2 separate regions of the Homo sapiens genome follow, and region 2 is linked to region 1. Evidence: fine-mapped expression QTL. A gene starts in region 1. The other region holds a variant in brackets. All regions are shown on one strand. Distances are from middle to middle.

Region 1 (4,385 bases):
AAGTACACAGACAACTCCAAAGATTCAAGACAGTTCATTCGGGCTGAGCCAGCCCACTGGGCAGACTGACCTTCCAAAAAGACCCACCCATGACATACACCAGATGGCTCTCCAAGAATCTCTTCAGTCCTCAGGGTCCCTAACGTACTGGACAGAGCTAGGAAAGCAAACCCATTTGCTTCTTCCTGCAGGAAACCCCTTGAGGTTAAGACCCCACAATCACATGAGGATGGAGTGGCTCACCCTCAGTCAACAGGCCAGACTCAAGGTGGTATAATGTCTTAACCGCGGGTGCGGGCCTCCAGGTCTGACTCCCAACTCAGTTCTTCTTTAATAACCACACTTTGTTAATTTTCCTTAACAGGGGTTCCTGGCAAGTCATTTCTCCCTCGGGCCTTCGGTTTCCTCACCTACAAGATGAGAGGGCTGGACCAGATGGAAATTCAGGGGGTAAGGGGATGTCCTCACGCAGCCCACCCCCACCCCCACGGGACCCTGGAGCCTCCATCCCAGTTCCCACCACGCACCCGCTCCACAAATCCTGCCCAAGGTGAGGGCTGGTCCTGGGTCCTCTGGCTGCCGCATCAGCGAGTGCAGGAGGGAGGGGAAGCCTCCAAGGGGGTGACGTGGGCTCAAAGATGCAACTCGGCCAGGAGTGAACTGGGGCCCCCGAAGGAGGTGTCCGGGCCGCTCCTGGAGCCCAGCCCGGGTCCCCGAACCCCTTACCTCCAGGGTCTGTATCTCCTGCTGGGTGAGGTCGTTAGACACAGCGCACTTGGTGCACAGCCCGCACAGGCTGCCAATGAAGATGACGATGAGCTTCTGGAGCTGCCCGCACTGCTGCAGCGCCCGGCTGGCCGCAGCCCCTGTGCCACCCTCCGTGGCCGCCGCATCACCCCCACCACCGCCCTCCTTCTTCTCTCCCACCGCCTCCACAGGCAGCGCCACTCTATGCAGGCCACAGGGGCCTAGGCAAGGAGCCCGGGGCGCCGGCGCCTAGGCAAAGAATCCCTGAGCCAGGAGAGCTGGACCAGGAGCACCCCTCGGCGCTGCCCTTGCCAGGACGCCAGTAGAGCTGGCAGCCGAGTCTGCCGCTCCTGCCCTCAGAGCCGTGGCGGCGGGGACAAAAATCCTCGGTGGCGGGGGCAAAAAGTCGCGGTGACAAAAAGCGGCGGCGACCGGGGCAAAAAGTCGCGGCAGCAAAAAGCCGCGGCGGCGGGGGCAAAAAGCGGCGGCGACAGCGGCAAAAAGCCGTGGCGGCGGGGGCAAAACGCCGCGGCGGCGAAAAAGTCGCTGCGGCAGGGGGGCAAAAAGCCGTGACAGCGGGGCGCAAAAAGCCGTGGCGGGTAAAAGGCCGTGGCGAGTAAAAAGCCGCGATGGCAAAAAGCTGCGGCGGGCAAAAAGCCACGGCGGCGGTGGGGCAAAAAGCAGCGGCGGTGGCGGAGGGGCAAAAAGCCGCGGCAGCGAGGGGGCAGAAAGCCGCGGCGGCAAAAAGCCAAGGCGACGAGTGTGCAAAAAGCTGTGTCGGTGGTGGGGCAAAAAGCCGCGGCGGTCAAAAAGCCGAGGCAAGGTGGGGGCAAAAAGCCGCGGCGGCGGAGGGGCAAAAAGCCGCGGCGGCGGGTGTGTGGCAGAAAGCCGCGGCGGGCAAAAAGCCGCGGCGGCGAGGGGGGCACAAATCCGCGGCGGGCAAAAAGCCGCGGCGGCGGGGGGTAAAAAGCCGCGGCGGGCAAGAAGCCGAGGCGGGGTGGGGGCAAAAAGTCGCGGCGGCGGGGGGCAAAAAGTCGCGGCGGCAGGGGACAAAAAGCCGCGGCGGGTAAAAAGCCGTGGGGGCAGGGGGGAAAAAGCCACGGCGAGGAAAAAGCCGCGGCGGCGGGGGGGGCAAAAAGCGGCGGGGTGCAAAAAGCGGCGGGGTGCAAAAAGCGGCGGGGGACAAAAAGCCGCGGCGGCAAAATTCGCAGCGGCAAGGGGTCAAAAAGCCGCGGCGGGCTAAAAGCCCTGGCGCCGGGGGGGCACAAAGCAGCGGCGGGCAAAAAGCCGAGGCGGGGTGGGGGGAATAAGCCGCGGCGGCGGGGGGGCAAAAAGCCGTGGCGGCGGCGGTGGAGGGCGAAATAATGGAGATGGAGTGGAAGGCCGGCACAGCTTGGCATTGCTGGAGTGCGATGTGATAGGAAATGAGCAGCCAAAGACAAAAAGATGTAAGTAGGCTTGACTCATTGAAGCTAAGAACCCAGATGTTATCTTGAGGGTATTAACTAATAAGCAGTTTAAATCAGAATGACACATTCTGATTTGTTTCTTGTACGTTCACATTTGGCAGGCATAGATACTGTTTGAAGAGAGAAAAGTCAGTAGAGAGAGGTAACAAACTTAAATATGTGCCAAGTCTAGAAACAAGAGACCAGGGGGATAGGGACCTTTCAAAATAAAATGCAAGATTTGAAAACTGATTGGCTGGGGGATGAGGAAAAGGCAGGTCTTTAAGGTCCATCCCTGTTTTGCTTTAAGTTGTTAGGGGGTGGTTTTATCACATGTTGTAGAATATGTCATTTCAGTTTTGAACATCTTGAGTTAAATTGTCCTAGCATATCTTATGAATTTGATTTTCTTCCCTGGGAAGCTAATATTTCAAACACTTAAAGAGTATATAGATTTCCAACTTGTATCCAGTTTATAAAACTATCTCTAGGCTGCTGATTTCAGGAGGAGGCTTATGAGTATTCTCCTTGCAGAGAATATATCAGGAGTTAACAGCAGCTTCAATATTTGTGGATGACCAGTTAACTAAGCCACCTCTTAGTGTCTTTAGTTGGGAAATCTTAGCTGAAGATATTCAATAATGAACCAAGAGTGACTAAGAAATTCAATATTTAAGTATATTTCATTGTAATTAATTTGAATTGAAGTAGCCATATACAGCTAGTATTTACTATATTGAACAATGCAAATAAGAGGAAAAAATTAATAACCATCTCTAATACCACATGCCAAAATCCTCATCAATTTATTCTAGCTAAAGGAGTTGATCAGAAGCAGTAGTTGAAAGCACCAACTAAACCAGCTGGGGTTAGTTCACTGTCATTCTCTCAGAACCATCTCTCCTCTGAACAAAACAAGTACAAGAGTTCATTGTGAATCTGCATTCTCCTTGCCTATTTTAAGGTTTTGATGTTGACGCAAATTTGTGAAATCCCTCCTGTGGTGTGATATTTCGTTTTCCTTGCTTTGTGTTAGGACAAGAATGCTTCAGCTCTTAATTTAAAATTATGTTTCTCCCTCCTAGGTTGAGTGAACTTAGAATGCATTCTCTGACATATCCAAGATTTTGTTAATATGAATTTCGGGAAAAAAGCATACTTAATTAGCTAAGACGTCTTATTCTAAGCTTGACCCTATGTTCGACATCTTTTGAATTTCTAGTTGCATGGGCTGCTCTCTGACACTGGTTAGTGACCTGGAAGCTCTATTAATGTTAGGGGAGGTGGTGTATGAGCATTAGAGGTATCCTTGCAAGGAAAGACTTGTCTTATCTCAATACGTCTTTTTTTTTTGCACAGAAGAAAGTCAATGTCTGAGTCTTCTAAAATCTTCCTATTTCCAAATTGCAGATTATGATTGATTCCTAAACAAAGACCTAATTTTTGACTCAGAGACGTGGCAAGCTAGTGAATCACCATTATAATTTAACAATCTTCAAGATAAAATTATCTCTGATATTTAGATTTTGCCCAATTATTAAGATATTTGGGTGTTTAGTTAAGAATGGAAAACTCTAGTCTCTTGAGCAGAGACTATAAAGGCCTCAGATGATCATTTTTAATTTTATGCTCTTTTCTTTAACACCTTCAACACAGTTGGAAGCAGCCGATATTCCCCAGAGTTGTTGTGTTTTTTAAACCAAATGCATGGTTCAGTGGTAGAAAACTGGGCTGATCCAAGCTGTTTTCAGTAAACACTTCATTTCAGGTGACCCATTTCATATTAAATAATCTCTAGATCCTGTCTTCGAAACTAACTAGATCAGATAAACTACCCTGGATTTTCTCTTTTTAGGGTCTGAGAGCTGCAGTCACTTTTGTGAAAATGATTACAATGACAAGATAGAGTTGTAGATGGGGAAAATGTTTTGACTAATTTAAGCATAGTGGTATTTCATATGAGAATTTAAGTTACACACATTTGAAAATTATAATGGAGTCTCTTGGCTGAGCTTTAAAAAGAAATAGCGTTTAGGCTAAAAAGGGAACTGCTACCTCTCCTAAAATCAGAAAGATGTTACAGTAATTCTCCATTCTCTAGAATTATCAAGAAGCACCTTTGTGATGATTTACTTTTGCTCTTGCGAGTGTGAGCCCGTGTAGTCGTGGAACCATCAATTAGAATGGTGG
Region 2 (4,385 bases), 910 kb after region 1:
CAGGTTTCAGGATCCCCTCCCCAGGGATTCTACTTCCAGGTCAATGGCACCAATACCTTTTGGATCCAACTATGCTAATTCCAGGGAGAGGGTGTTGTGCCATCTTCATGTTGGCACAAATATTTACAAACTTGCAGACTTCCCTGAGTCCAGATCTCTCTCCCCAGCATAACACTTCTGAACTCTCAATCTTACCTGTGAAGGGAGAGTGACAGAACTGATATCAGGACTAAAGCAAGGTCCTCTTCAGAGTTGGGAGTTTTAAACCAGCCTGAAGCAAGTTTCTCTTAAGCTACAGGTGTGTGGGCCTGTGCTAGTCTGCATGGGGAATTCCAGAGTCTCAATATTCCTACCTAATGGCCTCATCCTGAACTGTCCTCAGCTGGAGATATCCAAGGCTGTGAAGGAGGAAATCCAGTTCAAGAGAGTTGAGAAGACTGTAGAATCCTTCTTTGAATTGGAAAGAGCCACAAAGCACAGGGTGCTTTAGGCCTTCTGCCTGGTCAGTAAGAGTCTGTTCCTCTTATCCAGGGAGAATCAACAGAAAGGGAACTTCTGGAACTGAGAACCAAAGTATCCAAACAGGAGCAGCTCCTTCAGAGCACAACTGAGCATCTGAAGAATGCCAACCAGCAGAAGGAGAGCATGGAACAGTTCATTGTCAGCCAGCGTAGGTTCCCTGAGAGGGAACGGGGGCAGAAACAGGCAGTCTTCCCGATGCCCCACTTGTGCTTCAGATGAGAAGTGATCAGGGGGGCTTGGGGATGTTGGGAGTGGAGACTGATTTGATGTCCCCAAACCTCCTGTGCCAGGAGCAATTGTGGCTGCAGAGGGAGGGGAGGACAGGGGGTGGATAGAAGGAGACTCCAAGCTGAATAGCCAGAAAGAAATAAATGCTTTAGAATTCTCACGCTAAGCAAGTAGGGTTAATTTCTGCTGGTGGTTTCTACTCTGTGGTGCTCTTTTGTTGTTTCAGTAACCAGAACACATGATGTTTTAAAGAAGGCAAGGACTAACTTAGAGGTAAGGAAACTACTGCACCAGTCAGAGGCACCAAGCCTGTCCCCCACCCATCACCATCCGTTAGCAGATCTTGTAGGTGACTCTTGGCCTGCTTTGGCCTTCCAGGAGAAGATTTGGGGTCCACTTGCAAGATCACAGGTCCTCAGTGAGCATCCTGCTAGTTTCTGTCCCTATCACCCTCCCACCCCGTCAGCTCCTGCCCCTGTATCTTGGTTCACTCTCACATTGTCATCATCTCTCCTTTTTACTCCAATTTTTCTTCTTTGAGGCCAAGTTCAGAGACTGGAGAAATGCAATTCAGCTGACTCTTGAAGTCATTAGACATTCGGGAGTCTGCCTCTGAATGAGCTTCTAGTAGAGGGATCTTGAGGCCAGTTATGTGTTCTACTCTTCATGAAAAAGTAAAAGCAATTTGCAACCTAATAAACTGATTTCACTGCACATTCCCGGGTTAAGAACAGCGATTTGATTTTGCTGTATCTTTAAGTAACATGACAAAAGAGATCTGTTGGGTCTCATTGGTCTAAAAGCAAATTTGTTAATAAATAACAACTGAACCTTCAGGGAAAAAATGTTATATATGTACCAGACATTATCTACATTTACTTAAAACACTAAGTGTTAATCATTCCCTAGGAAGTGCTTTGAAGAAAAACTTGAGGTATATGAAATGGTTAAAAATCAGAAACTAAACCTTTTAACATGGACATCAAAGCTTTGCCATAAGCAATTCAGCATATTCCTAGAAATGTTTCTAATCCATAACCTGAGAGAATGTTGATCTCCATAGTGTGAAAATGACTTGGGCCAGTTTAACTTGCTCTTTTTTTTATTTTTTCACTAATTCCCTTTTGTTTTTCTCTGATAATTCTTCTCTTTCCTGAGCCTCTTTAGAGCAGCACTTACAGGATTGCCTCTGTAAAGCCTTATTCCTGTCCCAGAAAAGGTAACCCAAAAAGTCTCTAGTATCCACTAAAAGGTAACCCAAAAATCTCTAGTATCCACTGGCTTTCTCCAGTGTGGAAGCTTTCCCCTCCACCTCCCATAGATCACTGGAAAGGACCCGAGGCCTCGGTTCTAATCCCTGGCTTATCACTAACT[G/A]CTGTGTGGCTTTGGCTTGTCCCTTAGTCTCTGTGAGACTGCTGCACCCTCATCTGTCAAAGATGGAACTGAACTTAGTTGAGCTCTGAGGTCCCTGTGGACTTGGCCCCTCCACACCCTCATTATGGCAACTGGACATAAACTTAACAGAGGACTTCCCAGCAAAATGTCCTCTTCTTCCTACAAACAGGCTGTTTCTATATGTGCATGTTTCATGCTAAGCACTTCTTTCTTGGGTGGAGATGGCAAAGGCCTCTTTCTGCTGAGACAAAGTGATTTGGAGAGTCACCTGGCCCCTGAAGGGGGAGTGGTAGGATCCAGCCACCCAGTGTGCAGTGAATTGGAGCAGGGATCTCAGCACACAGGGAGGTGGGGAGGCTCCCCCTAACCTCGGGCACCTGTTGCTCCTCCAGACTGCAGCGCATGCTCTTAGCTCATCCTCTTAACTGGCTCTCACCGTGCTCCTGGCTTTGGTCACCACGTAGCTCTCACTCCAGCTTCAGGTAGCCATCAGTAGGACCTGGCAATATACACTGATTTGGTTTGTTTTATGTTTGTCTGCAGGTGAAATCCCTAAGGGCTCTGCCGTGTACTCCAGCCTTGTGACCCTTGCCTTCCAGGAACCATGCAAGAAGCGCAGCCACCAGAAGTCCTTAAAACAGCAGGAAAGGTGAGCCTGTCCCCATTTTGTGCAGCTACCTATCTGCTGAGGAGCATCTGGGCCTCATTCCTCCAAGTCCACTGGAGGGTCCAGAAGAGGGAGTCAGAGATGTATCCTGGTGGAGCTGGGAGAAAGGCAGAAAGCCTTTGTGACAGCTATGGAATACCGTTAGCCAAGGTCCACTTGGCCCAGCACTAAGCAAAAGATGCGTAGTTTGCACAGAAGGTTTTGTGATACTGCCTCTCAACAGCCCCAGCAGCTTGGGAACTAGCAAGAGCACATTTCTTGCCTCATCAGCTGTCCTGAGATGGAAAACTCAGTGGATATAGGACCCTGATTCCGATGAAAGGGGCACGTGGTCCCAATGCTGGAGCTCCTCTGGCAGGTTCTAAAAGCACACTACGGAGCAGCGGTGCCCTGCCGGACACTGCTGGCGGGGGCTCAGTGAGCACTACTCACAGATCCACACCTGACCCTGTTGGGTCGAGTCAGGCTGGGCTTTGGTCTGCACTGTAGCACCTGTGTTCTTTGAGTTCACATCATGAATGTGGTGATTTCCCAGATACCATCTCAGGCTTAACCTAGCACATCCTATTTCTTTTCTTCTATGATATCCAAATTGGACTGACCTCACTTCAAAGTTGCTGTCCCATTTTGTCACCCTATCTTATCTCGGGGAAATTGCAGACTGATGGCCAGACCAACTCTGTTGAAATTCTTGCATAGAGCAAACCTGTGCTCATTTTTAAGTGGCATGGGAGAGGCCCCAAGCCTAGTAAAGCCTAGTCTGTGTCTTCACAGTGCTGGTAGAATGTGTTTGTGTGTATAAATATATGATATAGATTTATATATGTTGCTAACGCCACATATTGAAGGCCAACATAACTGGTGGACAGGGTGGGTGACAGAAAATGAAAGTCTTTTTGGTGATTGTTTAAGCAAGATGTGTATAAAGAAATAAATAGTTTTTCTTTCACTGCTTTGTTTCCCATTTCTGCACCAATCCCTTGACAGTATAAAGAACTGGAAAGAGAAAATGGGAAAGACAAACTGTGTTTAAGAAGCATATAGTCTAATGCTTGAACTCTAACTTTAAAAGATTAAGGTTTTCCTTCTTTGTCATTTTGTAAGAATCCCCAGTCTGAAAATATGAAAGAATGGTTCTTAAACTTGGTGTGCCTGAGAAGCAGCTGTGGAGATTATAGGAGCTACCTCCTGGTCTCCAATCCCAGGAGATTTAGTTGGTGTGAGCCCTAGAATCTGCATTTTTTTAATATAAGCACCCCAGGTGATTCCATTACATGTGGGCTTCAGATCACAGTTTAAAAAAACAGTGTTCTATAACATTGAATCAAAACTAAAACTACATTTAAGAACCTTGAATCAAAAAGTATGTCATTCCATAAACATTGATATAAAAATTTTGAAATATTCCTTGGGAAAAGTTCTTAGCTACATGCTTTTGATTCCCAAGATTAAAATAAGCTATCACTTCACAATTATGTACTAGAAACATTTAAAAAATAAAAACAGGTAGAAGGTGGAGTACGATGGTAGAATAGAATTCTCCGGCAATGGTCTCTCTGAAGGAACATCAAAT

The links. PIP is the estimated chance that this variant, and not a neighbour inherited with it, causes the effect. A credible set is the group of variants that fine-mapping cannot tell apart.
Region 2: its variant is the best candidate, but not a certain one, in a credible set for the expression of LINC02798 in adrenal gland (GTEx, PIP 0.88).

The regions. Positions count from the first base shown.
Region 1 is chr1:121,393,646-121,398,030 of GRCh38, reverse strand. LINC02798 (long intergenic non-protein coding RNA 2798) reads right to left here and starts at 2,459. Exons shown (of 2, transcript XM_047438024.1): 1 at 727-2,459. The coding sequence starts at 2,147. The coding sequence ends at 1,104. It overlaps SRGAP2-AS1 (SRGAP2 antisense RNA 1), which reads left to right and starts at 126. Exons shown (of 4, transcript NR_104189.1): 1 at 126-268; 2 at 365-550. RefSeq lists a silencer at 2,088-2,382.
Region 2 is chr1:120,488,220-120,492,604 of GRCh38, reverse strand. It overlaps the pseudogene PDE4DIPP2. Among named protein-coding and RNA genes, the nearest start is that of NBPF8, 75 kb to the right of the region's middle. The variant G/A (reference allele first, on the strand shown) is at 2,125.